Linked DNA regions of Homo sapiens: region 2 is linked to region 1. Evidence: fine-mapped expression QTL. A gene starts in region 1. The other region holds a variant in brackets. All regions are shown on one strand. Distances are from middle to middle. Region 1 holds the start of TSPOAP1 (TSPO associated protein 1). Region 2 holds the start of SUPT4H1 (SPT4 homolog, DSIF elongation factor subunit).

The links. PIP is the estimated chance that this variant, and not a neighbour inherited with it, causes the effect.
Region 2: its variant is fine-mapped to the expression of TSPOAP1 in pancreas (GTEx, PIP above 0.99). The same link has a PIP of 0.9 or more in lung and prostate.

What each region holds. Positions count from the first base shown.
Region 1 is chr17:58,316,084-58,332,312 of GRCh38, forward strand. TSPOAP1 (TSPO associated protein 1) reads right to left here and starts at 12,712. Exons shown (of 32, transcript NM_004758.4): 1 at 11,505-12,712; 2 at 10,600-10,707; 3 at 10,210-10,338; 4 at 9,451-9,630; 5 at 8,728-8,919; 6 at 7,385-7,462; 7 at 7,215-7,298; 8 at 6,867-6,956; 9 at 6,571-6,693; 10 at 6,225-6,329; 11 at 4,448-4,498; 12 at 4,026-4,046; 13 at 3,007-3,211; 14 at 2,197-2,369; 2 more. The coding sequence starts at 11,837. It overlaps TSPOAP1-AS1 (TSPOAP1, SUPT4H1 and RNF43 antisense RNA 1), which reads left to right and starts at 9,367. Exons shown (of 5, transcript NR_038410.1): 1 at 9,367-9,645; 2 at 11,967-12,038. It overlaps MIR142HG (MIR142 host genes), which reads right to left. Exons shown (of 1, transcript NR_186557.1): 1 at 14,805-16,229. It overlaps MIR142 (microRNA 142), which reads right to left and starts at 15,235; the gene lies at 15,149-15,235. RefSeq lists silencers at 8,265-8,514, 8,635-8,704, 8,745-8,834, 11,095-11,154, 11,765-11,874 and enhancers at 8,972-9,520, 11,555-11,714, 12,585-12,654, 13,185-13,354, 13,455-13,534 and 1 more.
Region 2 is chr17:58,343,622-58,359,184 of GRCh38, forward strand. SUPT4H1 (SPT4 homolog, DSIF elongation factor subunit) reads right to left here and starts at 8,580. Exons shown (of 5, transcript NM_003168.3): 1 at 8,446-8,580; 2 at 7,781-7,887; 3 at 3,908-3,963; 4 at 3,567-3,620; 5 at 1,557-2,692. The coding sequence starts at 8,514. The coding sequence ends at 2,625. RNF43 (ring finger protein 43) reads right to left here. Exons shown (of 10, transcript NM_017763.6): 9 at 13,847-15,202; 10 at 10,055-11,365. The coding sequence ends at 11,322. TSPOAP1-AS1 (TSPOAP1, SUPT4H1 and RNF43 antisense RNA 1) reads left to right here. Exons shown (of 5, transcript NR_038410.1): 4 at 8,123-8,293; 5 at 8,378-10,106. RefSeq lists enhancers at 597-1,126, 9,361-9,896 and silencers at 8,154-8,263, 8,544-8,973. The variant A/G (reference allele first, on the strand shown) is at 10,567.

The sequences.
Region 1 (16,229 bases):
CGGAAGCTCTGCTTCTGGATTCTCATTGGGACCCTCAAAGGGGTTGTAGCTGTTAGGGGAGGCACAGAGGAGGAGGAGGAGAGTGACCTACACTCCACTTCCATGTCCTGTCTTCTCTCTCCCACTGCACTGAGCCTTTACGGAGACTTGGTTGTGGTTGTCCACCACCAGCAAAGCTGAGCCCTCACTGCACCCACCTTGGCCCAACTAGGTTATTAGAATAGGTCCATTGTGTCCTGTACTGCCCCCACCACTTCCAGAGGTCTCCAGCTCCACCCGGCCCCCTCCTATACCCCAAATGCTGGGGCTGGGCTAGGGGGCAGTGAGGGTGAGGGACCCACCTATAACGTGCTAGGAAGACCTGGATCCTGGCTCCTCCCCGGCTGCCCTCTGGCGCAGCTGGGAGCAGGGAGACACTGTCTGCCTCCAGCTCCTCTACCTCACTGGCTGTGTCCACCTGGGGGCAAACAGAAAGGGCTGGTTTCTCTTCAGGGCCTGGGGCCAAGCGCCAAGCAGGCAGGTTTCCAGGCTGAGCCAGAGGACCTATTGCTTTAAGGAGGGAAAATGAGCACATACATGCTGCACAGGAGCAGTGGCAAGGACCCCCTGATGCTCTCTAAATTAGTGCCTGAGAGAGCAGGTCCTGGCAGAGCCCAGCTGCCCTGGGCAGGGGCAGTGGGGATAACCCAGACCCCTCCCTGAGCCTCTACTGCACCCGCCAGGAAATAAAGCCACTTCCCTCATCTCAGAGGGGCCCAGGCCATGCTGGTGTGGGGAGTGGGTGTCAACAGAAGTTTGGTTTGGTTCCTTAAGGTAAAAACTCAGCAAAGTTGCCAGGTGCAGTGGCTCGCGCCTATAATTCCAGCACTTTGAGAGGCTGAGGAGGGCAGATTGCTTGAGCCAGGAGTTTGAGACCAGCGTGAGAAGCATAACAAAACCCCATCTCTACTAAAAATACAAAAATTAGCTGGGTGTGGTGGTGCATGCCTGTGGTCCCAGCTACTTGGGAGGCGGAGGTAGGAGGATTGCTTGAGCCCAGGAGGCAGAGGTTGCAGTGAGCTGAGATTGCGCCACTGCACTGCAGCCTGGGGGATAGAGCGAGGCCCTGTCTAAAAACAAACAAACAAACAAACAAAAACAAAGAAAAAAGAAACCCCTCAGCAAAGCACCCCAACTGTAAATCGCTGGAAGCAAGGAGGCAGAAAGGAGGCAGAAGGAGCTTGAGGGGTCCCTGCTTCTAGCCGAGTGACAGTGTGTCTGCTGTTCAGCTCTGGAACTCAGAACTTCCCGTCTACTTGCCCGGCCCACAGCCCAGGGCACCGCAACCTCAGGGCACCCCAATTCTCTGACCCTTGTTGAGGTTGCTGGGGTAGCCTGGGGAACAGGCTGTCTTCTCTTCTCTGCCAATGCCTGGGAGAAGGGGACCAAGTGGGCAACCTCTCCACAACCACATCCAAAGCTGGCACCATCCTTCTATCCCACGAGGGGGCAATAGAGGCCCAGGGCTTCGTTCTACCACTTTCTGAATGTTTGGCTCTCAGAGCTGCTTCTGACCTGCCTCCTCCACCTTCTGGGGTTTGTGGGTAGAAAGAAGGATGAGTTGACGACCAGAGCTATGAGTGATGCCCAGGAGCTTAGTAATAATAACAGCTGCCCCGTGTTGAGCACACATCCTGTGTGCCCCACACTGAGACAGGCAGGTTCCGTATTCATTTAACTCTCACAACAACCTTAGAAGGCAGGTTTTATTAGCTCCAAGATTCAGATAAGGAAACAGAAGCCCAGAAAGGCTCAGTGACTTGCCTAAGGCAAAGCTGGGATTTGAATCCTGGAACATGTGCTTTCTCATACAACCACCTGCTTTCACTACAGATGCTCTTAGGAACAGTCTCATTATGCAGATCCTGGTGCCCAAGTGTCTCCTCCATCCAGCCCAGCACTCCAGAGCCTCCCTGGGCCTCCCAGGGGTGGGCTGGGGTGGCCCCAGGTGGGGCTTGCAGGCAGGCAGTGGAGGGCAGGAAGGGCTCCACCTGAGCGCCTCGCCCACAGGAGGAATCCACAGGCCTCCCACCTCCCAACTTGGGACCCCAGAAGTTGCCACCCAACTCCTGGGGACCCCAGAAGAGGTCAGGGCCACCTGCCCTGCACCCTTCCCCAAGCCAAAGCCAGAACTTCAGGCCCCACCCCAGCAATTACCTCAGGTGTAGGGCATGACTTGGGGCTGTTGTGGATGGACTCGGAGTGGGAGGAGTTGGAGAGAGACTCTGCCTTCTTGGCTGTCCTTCGAGGGACCCCAGTGAGAGTGGCAGGGGCAGGCTCGGAAGACTTTGGGGTGCAGCGCCCAGGGGAGCCCGGCGGGAGGTCAAGGTCTAAAGAGAAGATGGCACGTGGGCTTGGGGTCTGTGGCCTGAGGAGGGACCAGGAGATAGGGTGGTGCTTCTTGGATATGGGGACCAGGCCCTCCATAGCCGGGCTTCCTTACAAAAAGGGAAATATTTAGAGAGAAACTTACTAAATAGAGGTATAGCTGATTTACAAATACTATTTCACATGATCGTCAAAACAGCTTGATGAGATGCATTTAATTATTCCTGTCTTACAGCTTACGAAACTATGGCCCAGAGAGGTTAAGCAGCATTCTCAAATCACAGTGACTGTCAAGTGAGTGGAGCTGGGACCACCGGATCCGACTGACCCCCAAGCCCCCACTCTGCACAAGGCCACACTGCCTGCTACTGACTCCTAGTGCCCAACCCCTAGGTCTGACCATTCAGGTCCTTTTGGAAGGAGAGGAGCAGTGGCCCACGATGCCTGGGCCAGACTCTGGGACAGTCACTCCCCTGGGCTTTATTTTTCCCCAACAGAACGTGGTTCTAGCCAGGCACAGCTCTAACCTGCTGTGTGACTTTGGATGAGTTGCTGGCCTTCTCTGATCCTGAACTCCCTGCTCTATCCAAAAGCCCAGGCCTGGGGATTCCAGGCCAATGCCACTGGGGTCCACCTTACCTTTGGGGCCAGACCCCCGGCAAGGCTGGGGAATGGAGCAGCAGCAGGGGGGTGGTGGGCAGTCTCCAAGGCTCCCACAGTCCAGGGCAGATGTGAGCAGATCCAAGGGGCCCGGGTGCAGGCGGAAAGCCTGGAGTTCCTGTGCCAGGAGGCTGAACTGCTCGGTTTGGCTGCGGCACTGTTCTTCGAGCTCTCGAACCCGGGCCTGGGCCAAGACCCACCATGAGCCGCCAGGCCCCTCAAAGCTACCCAGTGCCAGCCCGTGCCATCTGTACACAGCCCTACACTGGGTTTCAGGTCATATCCATCCACCCAGCCCCAGGCCTGGGCACCAGCCTTGCCTTGGCCACCCCACTGTCCTTAATGCATCAGAGCGGAGGGTGAAGTCCTGGGCTGTGTCCTGGGACATCTTCACCCCAGCCCCCTCCAGAGCCAAGGCCGGGGCCTGCCACACACTCACCAACCCTCAGGCCCTAGGCGATGGCACCTCTGCCTCTGGCTGCTTTCTAGGCCAACAGGGATCATTCCCACCCCATCATCACCACCATCACCGCAGGAGTTTTCTCAGCTCCACTGCTCATCACCCTCCCACAATCAGCAACTCAAACCCGTTCCCTGAGAGAGGCGGGCAGGAAATTCCACAGGGGAGCCAGGGATGTCTTCGTGATGGGAATGGGCCAATGCCCGGGAAGTTTTCTCAGGTCTGAGGAGAGTCCCAATAGCAGGGGCTCTCTCCGGCCACTATGGCGAGGCTCCTAAGTTAGACTGGTGATGAACTTCCTCATGATCAGGGTGGCTAGAGAGGGGAGGCCCAGTGTCTGACAGACACGGCGGCAGGCCTGGGACAAGGGGACAGCCGCACGTGTCCTGTGGGAACTCCACCCCCTATGGATTCTCATGCCTGCTCCCAGTGACACCCCCTCTGCTGGATGAGAGAGGGGGACTGCCTGGGCCCTGAGGGAGGAGATGCAACTCAGCCAGCCTGGAGAGGTGTGGGGAAGTGGAGAACGAGGCGCTACCTGCATGGAATCCAAGGTAGACTGTTGCAGGAAAGGAAGCAGAGAACAGGTTAGAACCCTGAGCGCTGTGGGTTGCTAACCCAGAGAGGGAGGCGGAGAAGGGGGCCTAAGTGGATATCATCCAGTCAGCTCCCTGGACTGACTAGCAGTTCCTAAATGGAAGGATATCTCAGGGTGAAGGCAGCCTCTGGGGGTGGCAGCAATGGGAGACTGCTGCCACCAGACTTGGGAGCCCCCTGCCCAGCCGTGCCCACCCTGAGAAATAGGCCAGTGGTGGAGGGGACTCCCCCAGGTCCTGGAGCATTTAAGGGCCCCTCCTGCAACCCCTCTCCCCACCGCCATAGTCCATTTCAGCTCTATCTGGAGGACCCCCGCCTTCCTCCCAAGATGGTGGAACTGGGGGCCACTTCCAGGCGCCCTACCTCCAGCAGCTGCACGGCTCCTTCATGTTCCCTCTGGGCTTCAGCCTGGGCCTACAGGTGGGGGGAACCAAAATACTGGAGGGAAGGAGAAGGAATGGGGTGGAGTAGAGAGGGCTGCGAGGGAGGAAGGGTAGAAAGGACAGAGGCAGGGGAGGAAGAAGCCGGGAGAAAGAAAAGGGTAGGGAGAGAGGGAAGAGGGATAGGGAAGGGGGAGGCCGAAGGGTTTCTCCCTCCTGAACACCCACCCTGAACCATACCTTAGACCAGAAGGCAAAGGGGACCAGGAGAAGCGTGGCTGAGTCAGCTCCCCTCTTTCCTGAGCAACCATCCTCCCAGTTTCCCCCCTACCTCTCTGGATGCTCCTTCTCAGCCTCTTTTGCCTGCTCCCTGTCCCCCATTTTGAATGTTAGGGTTACCCTGGACCCAGTGCTGGGCCCAGTTTATATTGTCTACTCTCTTCCTAGGGCTCCCATCTACTCATACAACTAAACACACTGGTGGCTCCAAATATCTCCAAGACCAACTTACCCATAACCCCAGGCTCATGTATCCAAGTGCCTGTGGACAGCTCCCCTTGAATGTTTAACGCGCAGCTCAGACATGGCCCAAATGGAACTCAGCACTCGGGATGACCTACCTCTCAGATCTGCTGCCCCTTCATCCTTCACCTCACGGAGTATGAAGAGCCCCACCCTCCACCAAGGTTTATACAGCAAATGGCTGTCAGAGAAGGGATTCAACTGGAATCCCACGGGGATCCTTGTCAATTCTTTTTTTTTTTTTTTGAGATGGAGTCTCGCTCTGTCGCCCAGGCTGGAGTGCAATGGTACGATCTCAGCTCACTGCAAGCTCTGCCTCCCGGGTTCAAACAATTCTCCTGCCTCAGCCTCCTGAGTAGCTGGGACTACAGGGGCCCGCCACCATGTCAGGTTAATTTTTGTATTTTTGGTAGAGACGGGGATTCACCATATTGGCCAGGCTGGCCTCGAACTCCTGACCTCAACTGATCCACCCACCTTGGCCTCCCAAAGTGCTGGGATGACAGGCATGAGCCACCATGCCCGGCCAGAACCTTGTCAGTTCTATCTCTAAAACATAACTCAAACCCAGGCACTTGTCTCCCGTTCCACTGCATGCATCTCTGTCCAGACAGCCACCATCTCCCTCCCAGGCCACCGCCCAGGCCCTGCTCCACGCCTGCTCCCACAGTCCACCCTCCATAATACCAGCCATGTGATCCTGTAAAATTATGACTCAGATCATGTCACTCCCCCACTTAGGATCTTTCAGGAGCTTCTATCTACTCACAGAGCAAAATACCCAAACTCTTCCCATGGCCGTTAAGGCCCGACAGGATCGGGTTCTTGTCTACTCCCACCACGCTGCCCATCCCTTGCTGTATTCTAGCCACATTGGTCTCAGGCTTCTTCAGCTCTTCCCTGCCACAGAGCATGTGCATGTCTACACCTCCTGGCTGGCAAGGTCAATTGTCACCTCCTCAGGGAGGCCTTCCCTGATGACCTCTAAAGTGGCTCCTCACCCCATCCCAGTCACTTTGTCACATCACCCTGTTCTTCTCCACCACTGTGCTCATCAGTGTCTGAAATCAGCTCACTCCTGGATGCTAATTTGCTGACTGCTCAGGGACCTGGTCTTTGTTCCCCACAGTCTCCCCGACGCCTAGCACAGTGCCGGGCACACAGTAAATGCTTGTGGAATGAGTGAGTGGCAAAGCTGGTGTCCAGCAGCCTGCCAGCTTCCCTCACTGCCGCCCCACCTGCTGCAGTCTCCGGACCTCCTCCTGCTTCTCCCGTAGGCTGAGCCGAGCCTGTTCATGCTCCACCTCCAGCTGCTGCCGCCGCTGGGCCACCTCCCGCATGTGCTGAAACACAAGATCTGAGTCAAGGCCAGAGCCCCTACTTGGCCATTTCTAGAGAAGATCTAAGATGAGGAAGCCTCAAACACCATTTGCTCCAGATTCCTCTATTACAAAGGAAACTGAGCCTGGAGCAGCTCCAGGCCCAGGCCTCAGAGCTAGTGCCCCTCACTAAGAATATTCTGCTGTCCCACTTGCTCCCCATGCCAGGGCCCAGCACCCTCTCCCACCTGCACCATCTCCTCACCTTCAGCACTTGCTCCAGGCTCTCCAGCTTGCTCTGCAGGCCCTGGCTCTTGCGAAGGGCTGAGTCCCTCTCCTGTGTCACCCCCAGGAGCTGGCCCCTCAGCTCCGCATTCTCCCACTCCACCTGGCGAGGGGGCAGTGACAGGGAGTTGGGTGGGTGAGCCTTGACCCACCAGCACCCTCACAGGGGGAACAGTACCCTACCCCTGCTCAGGGGTGGAGGAGAAAGCCCCTTGGCTGGGGACCGGGGCAGTGGTGGGAGCACAGGTCTCCACAGCACCTGGGCGGAAGTGGTACCTGCTCCTTCTCTGTGGCTCTCCCACTGAGCCGGGAGTTCTCCTCCACCAGGCGGGCATTCTCATTCTGCGCTTGTCTCAGCTGCAGTTCCTGAGCGGGCAGAGGAGCTCTCAGGAGGGAGCCCAGCACCCACATTCCCCCTCTCCCCACACAGAGGACCCTGCCCTCCTCCCAGGCAAGGCCTTCCTCCCCTGCTGGAACCTGCACCAGCCAGGAAAGGAAAGGAGCAGGAGGGAAAATGTGTTCTTGAGGGCAGCAGGGGTGGGAGCAGAGCTGAGAGGGAGCCCACCACCTGGCTGGCCGGGGTGAAGGGAGGAGCTGGCCTCTGGGTTGCCCTCAAGAGCTCACCAGCTCCTCACATCGCCTCTGCTTTTTCCGGGCTTCCTGCTCCAGGCTCTCGCATTTCTTCCGCTTCTTGCTGAGCTCCGATTCCTGAGGGGTCAGAACCAAGTGCTCCTCATGAGGGAAGGTACATCTGCCCACAGCAGGCTGCCTCCAGCCCTTGACCTAGGACTTACCAGCTGCTGCACCCTCTGCTCTTTCTCTGGCTCCCCTAGAATCACGGGTAGGTTGTCCGCATCCTCCTGGGGCGTGGCCTGGAAATGCCCAGGGGCAAGGGGCTGGCACCTGAGAACAGGGCCCCAGGGCAGCCTGCCCCAGCCCAGCCTGCCCAGAGCAGGTTCCCACCCCATCATTCAGCCAGCAAGAGATCCCTGCCTAGCAAGAGCAAAGAGGGGTACTGTCTGCCCACCCACCTCCCATTGTCTCCAGCTGATGTGTAAGTACAAAGGCTGCACCCCTGTGTCCTGGAGCCATAAGTGCTTTGAGATCCTGGGACCCACGTGTGCCCTGGGAGATGGGTCCTTTATCCAGGCCAAAGCTTTCCCTTTTTAGCTTCCAGCAGCAGCCCTGCTCTGCACTCAATAACTGTCCTGGGTGTCCTTCAGCGACTGGCAGAGAACTAGGAGGCTGCCTGGGCCCCCGGGGATGTGGTGTTCCCCAAGATAGGGGTTCTGTATCATCCAAATCTGGGCTTGGCCTAGAGCAGCGCAAGTCCAGCCAGACCCTTCTCCTGGCTTCCCCCAAGCCCACCCTACCACACCTTCCGATTATCCGTGCAAACTTTGGGGGAGGACAGGTCTTGATGGGAGGGTGCATCTCCCTTCCAGGGCCAGCCAGGGAGACAAAATCTGAGCAAGAAGCCTCCCCCCACCCGGAGGTCTTGGTCACTATCAGATCACTGCCTGGTCTCTCCTCCCAGCCCTCTTCCCAGAAGGAGGAGGACCTACTTGCTGCCTACCTAGGATGATGGCGAGAAGCCAGACCCTTAAGTTCTGGGGGTCCTAAGCGGGTCCCTGGCCCTCGAGACAGGGGCTGCCTAAGCCCCCCGCTCAGTGAGGGTTGCCTGTACCTGGAGCCGGGGCGGACGCACCGCCGCCCCCGGGTAGCTGGGGCCAGGCCTGGCCAGCCAGGCGGGCGCTGACGGGGGCGTCCCCGCTCTACGGCGGCGGCGGGAGGAGGCGGCGCGGGCTGGGCCCCGGGCGGCTGCCAGGACAACCAGGGATTTGCGGCCGGGCCGTACCACTGGCAGCGCGGCAGGGGCGGCCGGCCAGGCCCCGCTGGGCGCAGGCCTATGGAGGGCGGAACCCTGGAGCCCCCAGGGGAGGGCACGGCGCAGGTACGAGCACGGGAGGCTTGGAGGTGGACCCTGCCCAGGACGGGAAAGCTCCCCAGCCCCTGGGAGTGCGCACACCACCACTGAGTCCTTGGGGTTCTGAGCACGGTGCAGGGGAGATCCCGGTGGTCGTTCCCCCCACCCATCTGCACGCACCCACACACCTGCCCTTGCGCCGGCGCTCACCTCTCCCGGGGCCCCGGGAGCAGGCGCCCCTGCTCTGGCCTGGAGAGCAGGGCCCGGGGGCCAGGACGGCGGGAGCGGGAGCGTCTCCCGCTGGTTGCGCAGCGCGATCTGCCTCTGCAGCCGCAGCACCTCCCGCTGGGACTCGCGCAGCAGCCGATCGAAGTCCCGCACGTGGAGCCACTGGGGACCCTCCTGAGGTTGGGGGACAGGGACAGGGAGGGGACTCAGGCCTAATCCTTGCCCGCCCCATGCCATCCCCTGCAGAGCCCTTCGCCTTGCTGGAGGGGCTCCGATGCGCGAGACTGTGCACACCCTCCCATGGGTACATGCCTGGTTACATGTGCATGCGTATGTGGCCACATGCTCCCGCGAGCCCCTATGCGGTCATTCTCAGTAACTTATTTCTTGGGTGCTCTCAATGTGCCCAGCACTGTGCTAAATACCTTGTGAACATCCCTTCACACAGGGGATGTGTGGATGCATACAGCCAGACCCACCGGCAAACAGCCTCAAGCCTGGAGCACAGAAATGCCCAGGTCTGGGACTCATGGCTCCACCCCCTTCTCCCCTCTCCCACCTGGGCCGTTGCCAGGGGAACCTACTCCCAGCAACCTCCACCCTCCCTTTCATTTGCGTCTCATTAACATCTTGTCTGCATCCCACAACAGGCAGATGGCCCTGTGCAGGGCTGAGCTGGAAGAGGTGACCAGGGCCTCCTCGCACCTTGCCCACCAGAGTGAGCCTGGCCTGCAGCTCCCTGCACTCCCGCTGCAAGGCAGCAATCTGCTTGTCCTTGGCCAGCAGTGCACTGGCTGTCTCACTGAGGTCCCGGGCTCGCTGGCGGGCTAGGGCCTTCCGACACAACTCCAAGCTGGTCCCCGGCCGGGGCAAGGGGGCACTCACCTAGCCAGAGGAGGGGTAAGGCCAATGGTCACCTGAGGGCTGGGGCACTTCTCCCACTCCTCATCTCCTCCCAAAGGAGGAGTTAGCATGAAAACCTAGGGGGGTAGCCACCTGCTTCCACCTTGACTGGGGTCTCAGAAAACCAGCAGCCTCACTCTACCCCATCCCAGCAGTTGGAAAGGATTAACTCTACATCTGAGTTTAGGATCAAAGGATGCTGCTAATTTGGGGCTGCCACTGTGATGGGTCTCATCCCTGCCCCCACTCCAGCTCTATACCCTGAGATGAGCTCAGCAGAAGGCTGCCGCCAGCACCAGCACGTGGTAATCCAGAATCCTGCTCCCTGCCTGCTCAGGAACCTCCCCATCCAGCTCTTCTCTGCCCCCTGCAGCTCCAGAAACCTTTGGCCTCCTTGCCTGGCCAGCCTCTGCCCTTCCTGCACCTTAGCCCCTAGATTCTTGCTTTCCTAGGTGCTGAGCTGAGACCGTGACTCCCAAGCTTCAGACAGCCCTCAGGCCCAGCCCTGGCTCCCCTCTTCCTTGGTCACCCAGCCTCCGCCCAGCAGCCTCCTTTCCTCACCACCCTCAGGTTCGTTTCCTGCAGCTTTCGGGCCCTCTCCTCCAGGCGCTTGGCAATGACCGCCAGCTCGGCGTTCTTCCTCTTCAGCCTCCGCACCTTCTCTTCTGTCTCAGGGAAGCTGCTCTTCCTCTGACAAGGGGTCAGGCAGAATTGGGGCATGTAGGGAGCACCCCACAGACCCAGTCCTAACAGCCCAAGTCTTGGGCTAGAGCCCTAGGCTCACAGTGGGGTCCTTGGCAACTCTAGGCAGGGGTTCACCCTCTCTGGGTCTCAGGATTTTGTCACCTCCATTGAGCCCCCACTTGGAAAGATGTTCATGGGGTGAGGAGGGCACTGAGGCAGAGGGCCTGGCTCCAGCCAGAACGCAGCACCCCAGTCTCCAAGCCTCACCAGCATCTGGTTTTCCTCCTTAAGGATGGCACAGCGCTGCCGCAGCTCCCCCAGGGCCCTCAGCAGCTCCAGATTGGGCCTGTCCCCAAAGCTCATATTCAGCTTGGCCTGGCATGGGAAAGGACCGAGGACAGCACCTCAGAAACCCACGTCACCCAGCCAGAGCCTTCCCTGTGGAAGCATCCACCATCCATGGTCCAAGGAGACATGGAGATGAAACGGTTTCCCCTATGTCCCAGGCCTTCAGAGAGGAGCAGAGGAGGCCTAGGAGAAGGAACTGTCCAGTCCTCCCTGTCCACATAGACACCCCCAAACCTGGCACCCTCCTGCTCCTCCCTGATCCTTCCCATTCCTACCCATCTTCTCCTCCAGGGACATGCGAGCTCGAGCTCCCACTCCCATCCCTCCAGACTCCCCTGCCCTCCCCCAAAGTCCTGTTCCTTCCCTCTTCTACAGGAGCCTGCTCACACCCACCCCAACCCTGCCTCAGCCCAGCACCAAGCCCCCTCCCCTCAATCTACTTCCTCTGCACTGATTCTCTGTGCACCTCCACACTCCCCCTGTATCCCCCAGCCCCTAAGGACAGACAGACTCATGGAAGAAGAGACACAGACAGACACACTGTCAGGAGGAGGCACAGAGAGGGACGGGGCAGCAGCAGGGCCAGATCTAGACAGACAGGCAAAGAGGGTCAGAAGGACAGACAAATGACGAAAGAAATGGAGCCCCTCAGATTTCTGCTCGATGAAGAGAGGACAGATAGCCACAGAGATGGACCCACAGACAGGCCAAGAGAGGACAGGTGGGCATTGGGGATGCATACCTCGCCTCACCTCCTGGCCAGGCTGGAGGACATGGTGAGAGACCCCCACCTTGCAGACCCCAGCCCTCCACAGATCCCTTACCTTCAGGAAAGCCTCCACTTCCTCATCCTCTGGCCTCTGGCAGGCGGGTCCAGAGCTGGATGCTTGCTGGCCCAGGCTGGGCAGACAAGCCTCTGCTCCTTCAGGGTCAGTTCCCCCCACGGGCCTGGAGCTCCCGTCTCCTTTGGGCTTGGAACTCTCCTCAGACCTCAGTTCTTGAAGCTGCAGAGCTGCCGGAGGAGTATCAGCGATGCTTGGGGCTGCACTGCTAGGTTCACCCCCTCGACCTGGAGTCCAGCTATGCCAGGTGGGCAGTGCCCATGGCTCCATGGCTCCAGGGTCCCCAGGCCGTGGGAGGGTTGTCAGTTGCTCCATGGTACTGCCAAGGGGCCCCAGAACCCGGGCCGGGGGACATCACCCAGCCAGGTGGGGGGACTGGCGAGGGTCATGCCAGGCCAGCCCCTCTCCCCTCTGAGCTCTTGCTTCACCGACGCTCCATCCAAGGTTGGCTGAGCTCTTCCCCACCCACAAAGGAGGCTGCAGAAGGCGCCAGGGCTGCTGGAGCTGGAGCCAGGGGTATGTGAGCTATGTTTGCTGGTAGCTGTGTGTGTGCGCGAGTATGTGGAGGAGCGAGGGTGTCCCTGTGGGGGTAGGGAGGATGTGCAGAGGCCACCGACAGCTGCGCCTGGGTGAGGGTGCGTGTGTGTGTCTCCAGGTCTGTCCGTGCAGGTCAATGCTGTCTCATGTGTTGGGAAGATGGGTGCCCCCACTTCTGTGTGTTGAGGGGGGTGGTGCTGTGTGTCACTGTCTGCCCATTTCAGAGTTGCCAGTTGTTTGTGTGTGTGTGTGTGGGTGTCTGTATTGCAGGGCTGTGGCAGTATGTGATGCTGTCCCTGGTTGTATCTGAGTGTGTCAGTGTCGTGCAGCTGTGTGCATCGGTGTCGTTGTGTGTCTGTCAGTGTCTGTGGGTCTGGCCGTCTGTCGCAACCCCTCAGCCCGGCCAGAGGCTTCAGGAGCTGCTGGGGGTGATCCCCAGTGGTCCGCTGTGGTCCTTTATCTCCGGCTCTGCTCTCTGCTGCTGCTCTTTCGCTTGCTGGGTGGCTGGGCTGGTCCTAAGGAGGCCTGGGTCGATGGGCTGCTTGCCTCATAGTCTCAGCCCCTGCTGGCCTCTGCTCTGGGGACTGCAGGGGTCCCTTACAGTCCAGGAGCCTCGAGATGGTGGGCTCCGAGGAGGGCTGAGCCTCAGAATTGGGTGGGGGGGTGAGCCGGGAAGAGCCAGCCCTCCCCTCCTCCTCCTCCTCCTCCCCTCCCACCCACCAATAGGAAGTCGGCTGCTGGTTTCCATGGTGATGGCGCTGGACTGGTGGGCTGAACCGGCTGACAGGGTCGGGGACAGAAGGAAGAGCAGGTTTCTCACGGCATGTCAGCCCAGGGCTCCCACATGTGGCCTCCCACCCTCATCTTCACACATTCTCACACCTTCCGGAGTACAGAGGCGAGTGGGGTGCAGATGGTCCTCCCTACATCGGGTGAGACTGATAGAGACAGAACGGGGGAGGGTATGACAGAGATCCAGCCACAGAGAAGGGCAGAACTAGAAAAGATGGGACTTGAGATGAAACAAAGAGAGAGACAGAAACCAAGAGAAAGAAACCGGGAAGACAAGCAAAGAGACAGGTAGAAATAGACGGAGAATTCCTTCTGCTTCCTCCTGGCAGATTGCACTTGGGGGGCAACCTGGCTGTCCCAGGCCACCAGGGAAGCCCACATGGCCTGTTGGGTTGGCTTTGTCCCGAATTGCCTGGAAGTTCATCTTCTGTCTAGCCTTAGATCTTGTTGCTAAATAATTTGGGGGACAAGGACGTGAGAATCCCCTCAGCCAGGAGTCAGTCTATATGCAGTGGCAGGGGTCTAGACAGAGTCCCCAGAGCCAGGGGTGTTGGGAGAAGCCCCGAGAGGCAGCCCCTCTCCACTCTGAACCCGGGACTCATTAGGCAAGCCAGTTTCAGCCAAGGTCGGGGGCCCTCGTGTGGCACCCCCACAGAATAGCAGCGGTGATACTGAACCCTAGAGCCCCTGACTGTGGGCTCCACCCAGGCAAGAGCCAATGGAACTGGAGGTAGGGGGTGCATGGGGAGGAGTGGACATCTTCACTTCCCTAAAGCAGTGTGTAGGTCAACACGCACGCCACTGCATGATGTGTTGCTGTTTAGGTCAGAGTATATATGCATGCCATTATGCGCATGCGTGTGTATAGTATGCATCTATAGAATAGACATTATCTATTTCTGTATATGTGAAGGGGCCATTGTGTGTATATATGTGTGTGCTATTATGTGTCTATGAGTCACATAATAAAACGTAACAAAAACACATTGGGTGTATCTGTATGTATGTTTCTGTGTCATTGCATCTATGTTTGTTTGCCACTGTGTCTATGTGTGTGCTGTTATGTGCATGGGAGGCTATCATTGCATGAGTTTATAAATTACAACACATCATGATATATATAGATATGGATGCTACTATATGGCACAATGTAGTAATTGATTACACAATATATGACATGCTCATATCGTCATGTAAATATGCATAATGACATGGTTTGATTTATATATATATATCACCATGTATCTATGTATTCTATATTTATCATGATATATGAACATGTCTCTATCTATGTATGTGTATGGAGCCACCGTGTTTATTATGCAAATGTCACTGTATGTGTGTGCTCTTCTATGTGTAAGACACGCCCTATGTTTCTATCATTGCATGTGTGTACTACTGAATATGTATGTGCCCTGGGTGTGTGTAATCCCTGTGTGTGTCATGCCAGTCATGTCACATGTGTCTGTGTGTGTGTTACTGGCACACTGAATGGGGCCTCTGTGTGTAAATGCATTTGCATCTCAGTGTGTGCTTTGTATATGAGTGTCTGTGCCCTTGTCTAAGATGCTGTGTATGTGCCACAGTGGATTTTGCCCAATTTTTATATGACCTAGGACCCCCTAGACTTTCTTAGATTAAAACTGGATGTAGGCAGCTTTCAGTTTGGGTATGTAGGGGGGCAGGATAGGGCCAGAGCTAGGGTAGAAGGTGAGAGGATGCCTTACATCCCTGCCCCTTTCTGCAGATGGCCCAGGCCCTTCTCTCCTCCGGCTGTGGCCTGGCCAGGCCCAGAGCCCTCTTCTGATCTCATAGGCAGGGCCAAACCCGTATCTTCTGGAGGAGCGACAGAGGTTCTCCCTCCCAGCCCTTCTGTGCGCCCATACTGTCCATGTGCCTGCCGCCCGCATTCAGCTCCCCACCCCAGCAACAGAGTCTCAGACAAAAGAGAAGCACAGTCCAGTCTTTATTAGCATTGGGTCCCTGGTCCCACCACCCATTCCCCTCCACGTACCATCCCTTCCCACCCCTTCCTCGTCCTTGACGCTGCGGCTGCATCAGGGTTCCACATGTCCAGCCCTCCCCGCCCCCAAAGACTGCAGGGCAGCAGAGGAGCTGCTGTGGCCTTTCCCCAGCTGTCCGGAACCAGGAAGGGCAGGAAAGCCATGGAGGCCTTTCAGGCATCTGGGCAGGGTAGGGAGGGGCCGTAAGGTGCTCACCTGTCACACGAGGTCCCCGAGCGCCGAGGAAGATGGTGGCGGGCAGCGGGCGGCAGCAGTGGCGTGATCTCCGAAGCCCACAGTACACTCATCCATAAAGTAGGAAACACTACACCCTCCAGTGCTGTTAGTAGTGCTTTCTACTTTATGGGTGACTGCACTGTCTGTCTGTCCGTCGGCGTGTACTCTTCAGGCTGCCCAGGCCTCCTGACTCCTGCTCCAAGAGCCCCCCAGCCCTCCTTGTGGCTTCCTAAGATCCCCCCAACCCTGCCAGGGCCCCCCGAGGGCCCGCCCTGGGCCTTGTGGGCGGTGACTCAGCATGGCGCCAGACTTGCCTCCTCTACCTCCCTCCCCCACTTCCTCTTCAGTTCCCTCTTCCCTTCCCCCTAAAGGCTCCACCCCATCCCCCCAGTTTCAGAGACACTCAGGTAGAGACTAGGGCCTCTGGAGGCCTCACCTTCAGTTCTGTGAACCCCTGGCTGGCCGCTTCCAGCCACGCTAGCCACCCTCCAGCGTCCAAATGAGGCAGCCACAGCTCCCCTGCCAAGGTCTTGGTCTCCAGTCCACCCCAACCGTGAGGTCCTGACTGCCCAGAGCCTCAGTCCCCACCCTTCAGCCTCCCCACCAGCCCAAGATCCTGACCCCCCAGGGCCTAAGTCCCCAGCCTCCCCAACAGCCCAGGGTCCTGACCCCCCAGGGCCTCAGGCCCTGGCCTCCCCACCAGCCCAAGGTCTTGAACACACCAGGGCCTCAATTCCCAGCCTCCCCACCAGCTCAAGGTCCTGACTCCCCCAGAGCCTCAGTCCCAGCCTCCATAGCAGCCCAAGGTCCTGACCCCCCAGGGCCTCAGTCCCCAGCCACTCCACCAGCCCCAAAGTCCTGACTCCCCAGAGCCTTGATTCTCGGCCTCCCCACCAGCCCAAAGTCCTGACTCCCTCACTGCCCTGCTGTTCCCCTGGCAGGAGCCCAAGGCTATCCCAACAAAAATGGTGGCCATGTTGGGCGGAGGAAGAGGCTGGCGCCCCTTGAGACACTGGTCCCACTTCTCAGCCTCTGCGTACCCTCTGCCATCCCCGCCTTACTCTCCAGCCCTCCTCCTTGGACACCTCTTTCCCCGCCTGGGGTCCCGGAGCCATTTTACCTTCCTTCACTAGAGAGG
Region 2 (15,563 bases), 27 kb after region 1:
TTCATAGAGACCAGATGTCAGGGAGGGGACCTGAGGATCAAGTAGCAGGCTGCAGACAGACTAGGAGTAACAAGGCAGAAGCCACACCAAGAGCAAAGCCTCAGTTCCCAACCCTGGTGAAACTGCTCCCCTCCAAGACCAGACCATCCTGACCCTTGCTCTATCAGCTACCAGTCCTTTCTTGAGCTGGAGGCTGCATTATCAATGCACTGCCACTGAGCTCCTCAGTGTTCTGGGAGACCCTAATTCCACAGTATGTGGCAGGGAGGAAGCAGGGAATGAGGCAAGGGCAGGCAAGGGGAAGGCAGCCTGGCTACTATTCCTAGTCTCTGTCTGACTTGCATCTGTCCTTGTTGAGCTAGGGAGGAGGCTTGCTCTTCAGGAGAGAAGCCAAACTACTGAGCAAGACAAGGAGAGATCTTAAGATGCTATGCACTCAGAACTTCGGCAGCCAGGACGGGACTGAAACTCTGACAGACACAATGGGCCAATGGGGCAGGACATAGCTCTCATGGCTGCCCTCATAGCCATGGAAAGCAGGGCAGCAGTACCAGGACCGCCCACTCCCAGGGAGCTGTGAACCAAGTCCTTGTCTTAGTTTCTTTGGGTTCCCAGTAGAGGATGGGACTCCAGCACCTTTCTGCCTGTCTGGGTTGCTGAGTGGCACCACCTGCATGTTCAAGTACCAGAGAAAGCAAGAAAGCTAATTCAGCAGCAGCTCCCGGGGAGAGCCCACTTGGCACAGTCTGTAGAGTCCAGGAAGGAAAACAGGCCACCCTTCCCCCACAAGCATCAATGCCTATGCTATGTCTTTTGCTTCCTGTGAGACTGTCAGTTAGGGCCCAGTTCAGTGTAGGGCTGAGGCAGCCTGAATGTGGTTATTTGTGCAAGCTCCTCTTGCCTCCCCTCCCCACAACTGTTTCCATTCTCACCAAGCAGCCACGTCCGGGTCAGACACCCAGGACAGCAGCTGGGGCTTTCCAAGGGACTTTTTGAGAAGCTAGTGAAAGTTGGGTGTTGGCTGCACAGCCTGGGCACTTGCTGAAACGCACTTCTTCCATCCAGGACGTAAGCTCTAGCCTGGCAGGGTTGCTTTCAGGTTGAAATTGAACAGAAATCACCACCCACGGAGCTTTCTGTTTGCTGGGCTGGGGAAATCCTTGAGAAACTCAGTTTGGAGTTGGGGTTATCTGACCATTCCCTCAGAGCTTGAAGGCACCAGAGAAAATGGTTTTGGTTTGAAGACCATAGTGGACATGAGCAGCCCGGCCAGTCCCAGTTTCCCTCCCATAGGCCTATGTGAGGACAAGGAAGGGGAGTAGACAAACTAATCAGAGTCAGGTCGCATCTCTCCTCCTTCCCACACTCTCCAGGCCACAGGTAACAAGCAAAATCAACTCAAGAGCAACACCAGGTGGCTGAGACACAAAGCCCTAGCACAGGCAGCTCTGCCCTAGCACAGCACAGCTCACCCTGCAGTTGTGGTTCTCAGCATTTCCCCTACTATTTTGGCTGATTGTGCACATATTCTATGTATTGAAAAATGGCCCAAAAAGGAGAGCAAAAGTATTTCACCTTTATAATACTTATATAATTTTCACATAGCTTCGTTTCTACAATCACAACAATCCTGAGGTAAACAGGCAGGGTGCAATCATTCTCTTTTTAGAGGGAGAACAAGGAACTTAGGGAAATCAAAATGGGGATACGAACAGGATTTCTGTGGAAATTTAAATGAGAATTTGTGGTAAATTTTTTTATCCTAAAACAACTCACCTTGGCCGAAAAATGGGATGTTACCCAAGGTCCCCTACTAGGCCGGAGGAGAAAAGGACCTACCTCCTACAGGGGCACAAACAAGGGAGACTAGGACTCAATGGTCGCCCAAGGCCCAAGGGTCTCCAGTGAGTGCTTGAGACTGGCCTAAGGTATAGGAAGAGCCGTGAAGAGAAGAAAATAGACAAGCAGGGGAGGGAAGAATTATTAAACATGGTCAAGGAGCACTCTACAAAGCCTCAGGATTTCTTCAAGGGATACTGCTGTGCCAGGTCTCGAGGGCAGAAGGATACAAGTGTGAGACACCAGGGCCACCAAGTTGATGGGGTTACTGAGCCTCTGGATCAGCACCCTCCGATAGGAAGCAAGGAAGCACACTACAAAGGCTGCAATCCCAGAGGCTGAGACAGTCAAGAGGGAGTAGAAGGGCCTCTGCTGCTCTGGGAAGGTTCTTATAGGGCAAATAAGCTATTACTGTGCCTAAGAGAATGGAAGAGGGAGGCAAGGCAGGTGTCATGGCCTTCAGAACTTTCTCGAGGTTCATATTTATTGACATTTGACCTAGAGTCCTTGGCATGGGGAAGGCACAGACCTGGGCCACGGGTAGGAAAATCAGCATCCTACTCTCTCCTCAATTCCATCTGTTAATCCACCAACCCAAATCCCTCCCACCCCACCTGTAGTCCAAAGAAGATAAAATGATAAAATGATGTGCTGCTCTCTCAACAGTCAGCTGAGTCTGAATTGGAGGGTAGGAAGTATTTGAAGTTCTGTTCATTTAGTTCCAGAACAAGAAATAAGCAGAGGCAGGAGGTGGAGAGCAAAGATGCTGGCAGCCTTGCATCTTGCTAGGTCTTTATAGCTGTGTCTCTGGATTTGTAGGCCACTCCTCGACTTTTCAGCTCCCGCACGATTCCTGAAGCAGGAAAAGAAACAGTTCTGTGAGGTAAGATTCAGAAGGGTAAGATAGGCCACTCAGCTGCCACCTTGAGGGGGGTACTATAAGCAAACTGGAGTTCCTAGACTACTTATCAATCGTCTGCTTGGCCAGGCACGGTGGCTCATGCCTGCAATCTCAGCACTTTGGGAGGTCAAGGTGGATCACTTGAGGTCAGGAGTTCAAGACTAGCCTGGGCTACAGAGCAAGGCCCCATCTCTACAAAAAAATTTTAAAAATTAGCCAGGTGTAGTGGCTTGCACCTGTAGTGCCAGCTATTTGGGAGGCTGAGGCGGGAGGATCCCTTGAATCCATGAGTTCAAGGCTGCAGTGAGCTCTGATAATGCCACTATACTTCAGCCTGGGTGACAGAGACTCTGTCTCAAAAAAAAAAAAAAAAAAAAAGGTCCTGCTTAGTTGACTCATTACTAGTGAAGACCCAGGCAGGTATTCGGTAAGAATGAGAAGAAAAAGAGGGATACATGTAGTCATCAAAAGCAAAGGTTCTAAGCCAAGCACCTGTAGTCCCAGCTACTCAGGAGGCAGAGGTGGGAGGAGCACATGAGCCCAGGAGTTAGAGTCCAGCCTGGGCAACATAGTGAGACCTTGTCTCTAAAAAAAATAAAAAACAGAAACAGCAAAAATTCTGGAGCCAGAATGCCTGGATTCCAATCCTGGCTCCTCATTTACTACCTGGTGACCTCCAGCAAGTGATTTAACCTCTCTGTGCCTGGTTCCCCCCATCTGTAAAATGCTGAACCTCATAGAATGTGAGAATTGGCATTAATTCAGATAAAAAAACTTCCACAGAGCTTTACAGTAAATGAACATTGGCTGTTATGATTATTATTACCTTGGGGCAGGCGACCAGTGACTGACACCGCATATACACCTGGCTTAAAGTTACCTGAGAGAGAAGAAAAAAGATACAAGATTACAGTGAAGTTAGTTAAGACTCAAGATCAAATGGAAGCTTAAGCTAAAGAAGTGATGCAACTCCAAGAGAAGAGCTATTCCCTCTTTTGGCTACAAGTGTTAAATGACAAGGCACAGGACACTGCTTCCCTGTGTTTCCTACAACCCGATCTTTCCCACCCTGAGGTCACTCATCTTGCTGATTTGAGACTCCCTAATGGACCTGAGGAACAGTAACAACACTACAACTAAGCCAAAAGGAGACAGGCCAACACTTACTGACTCGCTGCCACTTGGAGACCCAGCTGTCCTCTGGACTCATCATCGCAATGATTCTAGGGAGGGAAAAGAAATGGAGAGTCAGCCTGAGCCTCCCTGGGCCTGAGCTCAATTCTGAGAGAGGAATCTAGGAAAAAGCCAAGTACCGAGTCTCCACTGGAAAGCTGGCAAAACTGCCTTCTGATGTTGGGATGAGGCTGACTCAAAGCTAGGACTGACAAAAGTTCTTCATTCTTATGTCCTTGGCCGGCCAGCCACAGGTCAGTTTCCATCCCCAAAAGATTATCTCACTCAGCTCACAAACATCCTTAGCCTAACATTCCCTAGAAAATGAGACGGCTTTAGGACAAGGGGTCCAATAGTTACAACTAACACAACTACAAGGGGTCTAGGGCCTAGTGCAAAGAGGAGGGTGAGTGAAAACAACGGATCCTCCTACTAGAAAGGAGTTCAACTTGGCTAAACTTTTCCTCTTAATGACCTATACATATGGGGACCCCTCTAATGACCTATACATGTGGGGTTCCCTTCTCAGAACCTCATCAGTAAGCTGAGACTCAAAGGTTGAGATAATACATGAAAAACACCTAGCACAAAGACTAGCACAGAGTAGGTGCTAAATAAGCATTAGCTCTCCTCATTATCCTAATAGTCCTTCCCAGGTAGCTGTGATTCCAGAGGAATGGTAAGGCTATTCAAGGGCTAGAAGATGCTGCTTGAGCAAGATGGGTAAGCATTTTTGTCATTCAACGCATTCAATCAAATGCTTACTGACTGCCTATTGTGTGGGTGTAAGCACTGACATTTGTTGACTGCCTCAATATGCCTCCCCTCTTCTCTCAGTAACAATCTTGGATTCTTATTTGAGAAGATTCCCTTCCCATCCAAATCCTACATTCTCAGCCATGCGCTGTTAAGTGGAACCGACCCTACCTCCAGGGGTGACAAGCAGAACACTAGCCCCCAGCCCTGCAGCCTGATGGGAGATAGGCATGTATGCAGGCCATCCTCCTGACCACAAGTATATTCTTCTCTGTCCTTTGCAATCTATCTTTTTAGCCTTAGGGTCCCTACAGCCCAACCTTATGATTTAACCTAAACAGAATTCCCACTGTTCTCCAAAAACATCCTGGTTTTTCCCATCCTAAGCCTTTGCTCTAGTCACTCCCTTTATTTGGAATGTTCTCTCTCTCTCTCACCTCAACTTCCTCAAAAATCCCAAACTTCTTGCCTTAAGAGGAAAGTACTACCTCTTCCAATTCTGGTTGAGGTCATCTAGCCCTCTTCCGATCTTTAATTTGCCCACTCTTTAAGACCTAATATGCACTAGAATTATACAAATAATTCCTACAACCTAACAACAAAAAAACCAAACTGAAGTCAAAAATGAGCAAAGGCCTTGAATAGGCATTTCTCCAAAGATATACAAATGGCTATAAGCACCTAAGAGGCTCAACATCACCATTCATTGGGGGAAATGGGACACCAAAGTCACACCCATCAGGATGGCTATTATTAATAAATAATTAAGTGTTGGTGAGGATGGGGAGAAATTAGAACCTTTGGGCACTGTTGGTGGGAATGGAAAATGGTGCAGTTGCTAAACAGTATGACAGTTCCTCAAAAAATTAAACACTGAACTATCATATGATCTAGCAATTTCACTTGTGGATATACAGATGATCCCTGACTTACCTTAGTTCAACTTATGATTTTTCAAATTTATGATTTTGCAAAAGTGACATGCATTCAATAGAAATCGTTTTCAAATTTTAAATTTTGTTCTTTTCCAGGCTAGCAATTCAGTACAATATTCTGTCATGATGCTGCGCAGCAGCCATGAGCCACAGCTTCTGGTCAGCCACAGTAACATAAGCGTTCTGAGCACATTTGAAGTAGGCTAACTTATTATATTCAGTAGGTTGGGTGTGTTAAATGCACTTTTGGCTTATATTTTCAACTTATGATGGGCTTATTAGGTTGTAACTCCTCGGAAGTTGAGGTGCATCTGTACTGAAAATAATGAAAAGCAGGGACTTGAACACATATTTGTATACCAATGTTCACAGCAGTATTATTCACAAATAGCCAAAAGGGAGAAACAACCCAAGATATCATTGATGAATGAATGGGCAGCAGAACATGCTATACACATACAAGGGAATATTATTCAGCTCAAAAGAGGAGGGAAATTCTGTTGCATACTACAATATGAATGAACCTTGAAGACATTATGTTGGTGAAAGAAGCTAAAAAATGCTACTGAATGAGCCCATAGGTACCTAAGGGTGCCTAAGGTGGCCAAATTCATAGAGACAAAGCATGGTGGTTGTCAGGGACAGGAGGGAGGAGAGAACGAGGAGCTAGTGTTTAATGGGTACAGATGAAAAAAGTTCTGGAGATGGATGGTGGTGACGGTTGCACAACAGTGAGTATGCACTAATGCCACTGAATTGTGTATTTAGAAATGGCGACCGGGCACAGTGGCTCATGCCTGTAATCCCAGCACTTTGTGAGGCTGAGACGGGAGGATCACCTGAGGTCAGGAGTTCGAGACCAGCCTGGCCAGCATGGCAAAACCCTGTCTCTACTAAAAAAAGTACAAAAATTAGCTGGGCGTGGTGGTGGGCGCCTGTAATCCCAGCTACTCAGGAGGCTGAGGTAGGAGGCGGAGGTTGCAGTGAGCTGAGATCGTGCCATTGCAGCCGGGCGCTGTGGCTCACTCCTGTAATCCCAGCACTTTGGGAGGCCGAGGCGGGTGGATCACGAGGTCAGCAGTTCAAGACCAGTCTGACCAACATGGTGAAACCCCGTCTCTACTAAAAATACAAAAATTAGCTGGGTATGGTGGCAGGTGCCTGTAATCCCAGCTACTCAGGAGGCTGAGGCAGAGAACTGCTTGAACCTGGGAGGCGGAGGTTGCAGTGAGCCGAGATTGCGCCACTGCACTCCAGCCTGGGCGACAGAGCGAGACTCCATCTCAAATAAATAAATAAATAAATAAATAAGTAAAATGGCTAAAATGGGCCGGGCATGGTGACTCATACTTGTAATCCCAGCACTATGAGAGGCCGAGGTGGGCAGATCACCTGAGGTCAGGAGTTTGAGACCAGCCTGGCCAACATGGTGAAACCCCGTCTCTACTAAAGATATAAAAATTAGCTGGGAGTGGTGGTGGGTGCCTGTAATCCCAGCTACTCAAGAGGCTGAGGCAGGAGAATTGCTTGAACCCAGGAGGCAGAGGTTGCAGTGAGCCGAGACTGCACCATTGCACTCCAGCATGAGTGGCAAGGGCGAAAAGTCTGTCCAAAAAAAAAAAAAAAAAAAAAGCAACAGCTTTTGGGCAATGATCTACCATTACTACACCTCCCTTCCCTTCATTTTCAAAAAAAATTTTCATGCATTTAACAAACATTATTAAGATTACATTCTTTCTTCTCATGTTAAGTCTTTGAAATCTGGGGTATATTTTATACTTAAAAGCATGTCTTAATTTGGACTAGACACATTTCAAGTGCTCAGTAGCTACACGTGGATAGTGGTCACTGTATTAGATGCATAGCACTAGTATGTCCCAAAATAACTGTTGAGGCTGGACACAGTGGCTTACACCTATAATCCCAGCACTCTGGGAGGTTGAAGTCAGAGGATCATTCCACGCTGCAGTGAGCTATGATCATGCCACTGCACTCCAGCCTGAGCCACAGAGCAAAACCCTGATTCAAAAAAAAAAAAAAAAAAAAAAACCCACACAAAATAACCCCCAAAAACGAATGGCTGGGCCCAACTAGGATTAACACTTGCCCTGCATTTACTTCTCTGGGTGCAGGTTGGGTAATGCAGAAGTGAATGATGGAAACTGAAGCGGCTTACCCATCAAAGGAAGAGCTAGTGCAGTCATATACCATCTCTCGGTTACCCTTCATTTGTAGATATGCATCACAATTGTCACAACCATCATATTCAAACTGGTCTATAGTCTGGGAGTGAAAGAAAAATAAAGGAAAAGGAGAGATAAGCATGAACAAGACCAAGAGAAAAAGTAGCTTTCTCAATACTTCGACCTGCTCAATTTCTTGTTTCCCTATGTTGACTGTGTATCCTAAGGTTCCCCACCTACTACTCTCAAAGCTTCATTCCTAAGTCCCACCCTCCCACTCCTTCCTCTCTCGTTCCCAATTCCGTTTTATCTATTCCTTTCTCTAGTCTACTCAGGGTCAGGCATCCTTTCCGACTACTCACTCAGCAGCGGATCCCCACCCGCCTCTGACTCCCAGTGTCTTTCGGCTCCAACGTAAGTTCACCGAACGTCTAAGAGCTGAGGATTCAAAGGCATGTAAGACCGCCCCTGCCCTCAGCTGCAAGACCTGTCCGCGATCCTACGAGGTAAACGATGGCCTCCTTCGGCTTCTCACTCCCCCTGCCACCTCTGAGTTCTGAGACTTAACTTTTCTCTTTACTGTCCCACAGCCCCATTCCGCCCTCTTTCCCCGACCTTGGTCCCCCATGGGCCCTACAACCAGGTCCCCGACTGACACCTTGACCAGCGAACACAGCAAACAGGCCCGCAGATGCCGCAGGTCCTTCGGCACCGTCTCCAGGGCCATCTTCGCCGATGGGAAGAACAACAGGGAGATAGACGACCACAGCCTGTGCACCCGCAGGAAGTAAATAGCTCGTTACCCAGAATGCCCACCACTTCCGGCGCTTAGACTTCCTCTTCCGGTGTGGGCGGACGCCAGCTCCGCCCCTACCCCCGCCAGAGGAGATGGTTTCTCCCGCCAGCAGGCGGGGAGGCTGGGCGGCCGGCCGCCACCTGGGCCGGAGCGCGTCGCAGCCACCTGAGCCCGCCGAGGGCGCGGCGGAGGCTGTGTGGGGTAGTCAGCGGGCCCCCGGGGCGGGGGGGCGGCTGCGCTTGCGCGGGAGTGTGTCGGGCTGAGCCGCAGCGCCGAGACGCGGGCTGTTTGATCTGGGCTGGTGGCCCTGGGCGTCGGTCCTGTTCCCCGATGGTAACCCGAAGTTTGTTTTTTTTTGTTTTGTCTCCCCGTTTTAGAAGCATTGGGGGCAGTGAATCCACTGTCTCCCTCTGGATTGTCTCTGCAGAGACCGAGAAGAAATCCAGGGACAGCCCCACCCCTCCTTCCTAACTGCGAGAGCGCTATAGGGTTTCCACTTGCTTCCCACAGGAATGCTGGCCTGGGAGCTACGGCGGAAAAAAATGCGTATTTATCTTTTAAAACTCCGTCTGTTTGCTCGTTCCGGCTGATAATTTATACTTTGCGCAGTTCTTAGCGCTTAGACACGGTTCCTTTACTAAAGACCATTTGTAGGAGATTAGGTGTCCTTTTTTTCCCTTTCATTTCACCGTCTAGGAAGCGAAATGCCTTGTTCTATAGGCACTAAACCACCACCCCTACCAAACCTTTCTCGGGGAAGCAGAAGGGGAACTTGTGCCTTGTGAGGAAGCGACAAAGGCCCCTTCTGGCCCTGGAGACTTCACGCCAATGGAGCACCAGCTCTCTGTCCTCGCAATAGCCCGAGTGCAGGCAGAACGCAGTCATTTGTGTTTATCTGAGAGGAGCTTTGGGATATAAATAGTTTCAGGCCCCGCTGCGCTGTCATTCCAGCCCAGCCTCCTGATTGAGCTGCTTCCGGGCGGGCTTTCTTCTTGTTGGCGGTCCCATGCTGTGTTCAGATGGGCTCTGTGACAGGTTTGGATGTTTTCTATCACTGAATAAAACTTTCCACTTTGGAACATATTTTCTACACTCTATTATCTCATGTAAGTCCTGCAACAACTATTAAGTAGGCCCATTTTATGGACTGAAAAAGCGAGGCACAGAGTATTTGCCCAAGGTCTGAGTCACTGAAGTATGATAATGTGTGAAGTGAACAGTATAATAATAATGACTGAAGCACAGTAAGAATCCAGTCATGCTTTCTCCTTCCCTGATCTCACTAAGCCACACTTTTAGGGGCTTACAAACCAGTTCTTATTGCCAAGCCCTCTACTCTACCCTATCCTTTCATGAATCGGAGCCTAGCCTCTGATAACATAAATAATTTACTTCTCTTGATGTAGAAAGAGATGACGTTGTTACCCTGAGTGACAGTCACGACAGAACAAAACCACAAGACCAGACCACATTTGTGGATAAATATATTAGCAAATAAATATATTTCTTAACATAGTGCCTGATTCAAGCGTCTGTCTGGTTCAGATATAAATACCCATGTGGGTACCTAGGTGCTAGTCTCCCCACTAACTGAGGGAAAAAGGTTCCCAGGTGGGGTCCTCTGCCCACTTTGCCACCACATTCACATTCCAAATGGGATAATGCCTGAGGGGCCAAGAGTGGTCAGGCTGCCCTGGGGTGAATGTCACCCTGATGAGGCCCATCAGCTCTTGTCCACTCAGTGAGGCCAGACTTGTGCTCTAATCCACTCTCCTGTGGGTCCCTGGCCTGTATGGCTTATACTGGGGAGCTGGGCCTCTGGGCTGTCCAAACCCAAGGGTCACACTTTGCTTTTCCTTTGTTGTCCCCATTTTCCATCCTTGCTCTAAGACAAAACTTTTCCCAGAGAAGAACTCTTTGTTGTCCCCGCTCAGCTGTAATTCTGCCTTTTCTACCTTCATTCCATCCTTCCTCTGCCCAGAT[A/G]AAGTCCAGCAGAAATTCCTCCTTTCTACCTCTCTGGGACTCTGAGACAGGAAATCTTCAAGGAGGAGTTTTTCCCTCCCCACTATTCTTATTCTCAACCCCCAGAGGAACCAAGGCTGCTGTACCCACCTCAGGGACAGAACTCCACACTATAGTGGGAAAGCTTCAGGGACCCCTCCTTTTAGTGCTCAGGGCTCACCTATGCTACTGGTCCTTTTGGCAAAAAAGGAAAATGATAGAGCCAGGGTTGCCCCTGATGTAGCAGCCTTACTGTGGAGGGGCCAAAGCTGGTGTTCAGAGCTCACCCAAGGAGGGAGGTGATAAGGTGTCATGCGTTCTGCTGAACCCACTGGCTGGTATGAACATGAGGCTTGGGGTGAGGGAAACCAAGTAGGGGTTGGAGAAGGAGCAGCACCTTTGTAACACCTGGCTACCCATAGCTAGCTTTCTGCCCTCAAAAACTCAGCCTTCAAGGGATCCAGCCCACACACGCCACAGGCAGCAGCTGGTTGCCTGGCTGGACATGGATTTGCTGCACTGCAGATGTTTTCTGCAGACAAGGTCTGGAGCTGGAGCAGGAAACGGCACCCTCTCACCCTCCACCATCACCAGTCCTCTTCCAGTGCTTCTAGGAAGTACGGCAAAAAGAATGGTGTTTGCTGTGGTCCTTTCCTTTCCCAGGAGCAGGACTCTGTGCCAGGTAGGGCCCAAACACATCTGGAGCACACTCTTGGTTGGAGCTAGGCCTGAACATCTCACACAGCCTGTTCACACAGCTCCTCGAGTTCCTCCTCTGAGCCTGTATTTAGAGAGCGGGGAGGAAAGAGGTCATTGAGGGTCAGGCCAGGGACCTGCTTCTCTCGCCTGCAGCAGAGTGTGGCTGAGAGGGGACCACAGGGAGGGAGAAGCAGAGACTGTCTGGAAAGGGTGGTTAGATTGAAAGCTAAGGGGGCCCCAGTTGGGACACAGGGGAGAGAAAAACAAATCTAAAGAAATATATATAGCAACCAGTGTGTTACCAATACTTACTATTCATTTATTCACCCAATAAATATTAAGGATTCGTTGTGAATTTGGTCTGCTACCACGTGCCAAATAGAAGACCAAAAAGAATAAGCAGGGACCTGGTAACCTTTTTGGAGAGAAAGTATGAAAACAAATGGCCATTACGCCAGTGGGACAGGACAGGAGTCACGAGAGATGCATTAAGGAAGGAGAGAGACCAGGTCCAAGTGCAGCAATCAGGAAAAGCTTCCTGGAAGTGGGGATAAATGAGCTGATTCTGTAGGAATAGGTAAGAATTAGATTTATGGGAATAGAGAAGGCAGGAGAATATTCTGGGCTACAGGAACTACAAGAATTGTTTACCCAGTTTGGCTAAAGCATGGGCCTGGGGAAGGGAGGGAAGAGAATAGAAAATAAGGTTGAGAAGGAAGATGGGGGCTGGCTGGTGCAGGAACCTTTGAGGCCAAAGCAGGTTGGATTTTTCCTCTCTGTGGACAAACAGAACATTTGAAGATTTCTGGACAGTTTAGTGTAAGGCAGATGACGCTGGCAGCAATAGGGAGGGTAGGTGAGCAGTGGAGCTGTGGTGCACAACTTTATGGGACATACTGGATGGGCAGCACTCAGCCTTCGAGGCCCTGTAAGAGGGAAGGGAAGAGCTAGGAGGCTCCTGCATGGATCTTTAGGGTATACCTAAGACACTGGCAGGGCCATCAGTACTGGACTTGAAAAGAACATGATAAAGCTAGCCAAGATACAGTTAACAGAATCTGGCACTGATTAGATGTGAAAGGCAAGAAAAAGAGAGGCACTGAAACTAGTTCTGAGTTTGAGAGAAAAGGGAGATAGTGGTGTGGTACTGGCAGCACTCAAAGTACACACACAATAGGGTCCGAATGGAATCACAAACACATAGCCAAAGCTTGCAGTACATGGCTCTCTCCCCATGGACCTGGATGTCCTGATTGGCAAGTTCCATGTCTTCAGAGCCTAGCCTGGAACCTAGCACAAAGCAGGCATATAGTCAGAAGGAAAAAAAGGAAGGAAGGAGAAAGGAAATGAATAAATGAATGAATTGGATGAGGGCAGCTCCTAGGTCCTGCAGGAAGAATTCCTACACTGAAGAATATTTCAGGACCTTTGTGTCACCTCCTGGGTTGGAAGGGTTCTAGTGATGGCTGTAGACAAAGAACTGTGTCATCCATACAATGGGGGAAGATGGGGAAGAGTAGAAGGTGGAAGGTCCTGAATGGAAAAGAGAGATATGTGGGCAAGTAAACACCATGTTAAAGTTGAGAATTTACGTGATCACTGCTTATGATATAGGGATGCACTGAATCCCCAAGAAATTAAGGTCAGTCTTATTAATAATGATGTGTTGAAGGGAAGTCCTCCTTGTTCTTTTACCACAGGGGAAGAGAAGAAAACCTAAGGCTCCACAGGGCTGCTGGGAACCACCTGTGGTTTCTCTCTCTCTCTTTTTTCTCGTTGTTCACATAGCTCTTCTTATATAGCCTCGTATTATGGTTATGTGTAATTATTTCTACTATAGCTCCCCCCGAGGAACACTTCTTAGCCTTCTTTGTATTTAGAACTAATACTGAGCTGTGAGCATTGGTAGAACTAAACCAGTTATTAAAATTTAGAAACACTTATGTTTGAGCTACTACCCCGGGGACCATTCCAAATGCCTCTTTTTTTTTTTTTTTTTTTTTTTTTGAGATGGAGTCTCACCCTGTTACCCAGGCTGGAGTGCAGTGGCGCCATCTTGGCTCACTGCAACTTCCGCCTCTTAGGTTCACGCGATTCTCCTGCCTCAGCCTCCTGAGTAGCTGGGATTATAAGTGCCCGCCACCATACCCGGCTAATTTTTGTATTTTTAGTAGAGATAGGGTTTCACCATGTTGGCCAGGTTGGTCTTGAACTCCTGGCCTCAAGGGATCCACCCACCTAGGCCTCCCAAAGTTCTGGGATTACAGGCATGAGCCATCACACCCGGCCTTCCAAGTGCCTTTCTGATGCCTCAGCCACACCAGCACCTCCCTGGGACCTCCCTGTGATCTGCCAACTAAAGGGGTAGCACCTGGCAGAGGTGGGGTGTTCCTGCACTCTAGCCAGCATGATACGCTGTCCCGATGGTTAAGTATTTTGGTTGTCATCTCTGCTGTATCCTTCTCAGCTTCCATCAACCCTTTGTTGGCTGACTTCACCTGTCCTGAAATATTCAGCTGTAGTCTCCTCTCCCTACCACACCCACTTCCCTCTGAAAACTCACCAGGCTGGGCCGACAGCACCTGGCAGTGCGGATAAGGGCATGGCCTGCCCTCTGCGGTGTCAGAACTCCATTCAGAAGGCCCCTCCCCAGGTGGATGTGGTTCCAGGGGCTGGCGAGGAGTCAGGCACAACCACACTGGCTGTGAATTTGAGTAACAGGGGCCTGGGGTTTCTGGTAGCAGCCTCTTGTCCAGGCCTGGAGGTCCACAGATCAAGGGGTGTGCCTCTGGGGACCAAGGATATGCCACACTGGGGGTGTAATGGGGAAAAATCTGGCAAGCTGGGTGCACAGTTGCATCCTGGGGCCGAGAGCCAGGGGTGGGCTCGGAGGGACCCCCCCGCCTTTTCCTCTGTGGGTGTCGGGCAGAGAGGCTGGATTTTTGCAAGTTGAACAGACTGCTGGTACTGGGGCAGATGCTGGAGGCGTCAACTGGGCCAGGGGCTGGCTCAGGGAGGGCCCTGGGGCACTGTGGGTTAGAGAGCCGCCCCGAAGGGGCTGCTGAGTTGGATCTGGTGACTTGCTGATCAGGAGAAGGTGGCTCTGGCTGGGGCTGTGTCCGAGGAATAGGAGGCCTGGACTGGGGGACTCCGGTTTCTGGGCCAGGCTTCCTGCCATGCCACTGGAACCGCTTTTTGTAGTGGTGGTGCCGGTGGCGGTGGTAGTGGACATGGCTGGAAACCTGGGTTTCCCCTGTGGGCACCACCGAGTCCAAGGAACGAGGCCGAGAGGTCACACTAGGCTGCATGTCCACTCGCTGGGGATCCCCTTTAGGGCTGCAGTACACTAGGGGGTCAAAGTCACTGCTTAGGGAGCTGCAGAAAGTAGAACTGCTGCCATGGACCCCCTGTAGGCTGATGTCCGTGCAGTTGACCACAGAGTCACTGGAAGAGCCATGACAGGGCCCTGAGCTGGAGTCACTGGCTGGCCCATCTGCCAGGTACCCACTGCGTTCTGTGCAATAGCTTTCTCCAGATCCACTGCTGTCAGGGGGCCTGGCCCGGCGTAGGGGCACTGGGCAAGCAGCAGGGTGCTGTGAGGTGGATTGGAGGTGGCTCAGTCCCCAGCCTTGTGCATAGGGGTGCTGGGCTCCTGCCAGGCGCTGCTGCTCTCCTGGAGCCCGGGGATGTGCAGCTCTGGGGAAGCGGTGATGCCGAGGGCCCATGCCTGGCTCCTGGGATGGCAGGAAGGGACCAGGTCGTGGGGGCCGAGCCACTGCACTCCGGGAAGGGCCCAACAGGTAGGCAGCAGGGAGGTGGTAGTGGGCATGGCCGGGATGCTGGCGAATGAGGTGGAGTCTTCGACCTGGTTCTTGGTAAGATCGAGAGGGTCCCAGGGACTGGGAAAATGAATCTCCCTCTGGAAAAAAGAACCAAGAGCACAGATGTTTAACTCTACAAACCTACAGAGAATGCATTCAGAAAGACATGGCTGTAGCTAATCTATTTGACCCTGAGTAGCCTGTGAGCTCAGAGTTTGGGGGATCAAGGACGTGCCTAAGCTGCCTGTGCTCTGGGACTCCTTTGTTCCCTCCAGTCAGGTTGCCTGCCCTGGGAGGGCCACTATGCGTGTCAATCCCTAAACCTCCCCTCAGCCATTTGGAGCTCTTTCACCCAGGGCCACTGTTAGCCCATAGGGCACCTGTGGGTACCTTAGAAAAAGGTTCTCTTTCCTCAAGATATTTATTTCACTTTCATCTTTTAGAAAATTATGTTAACAT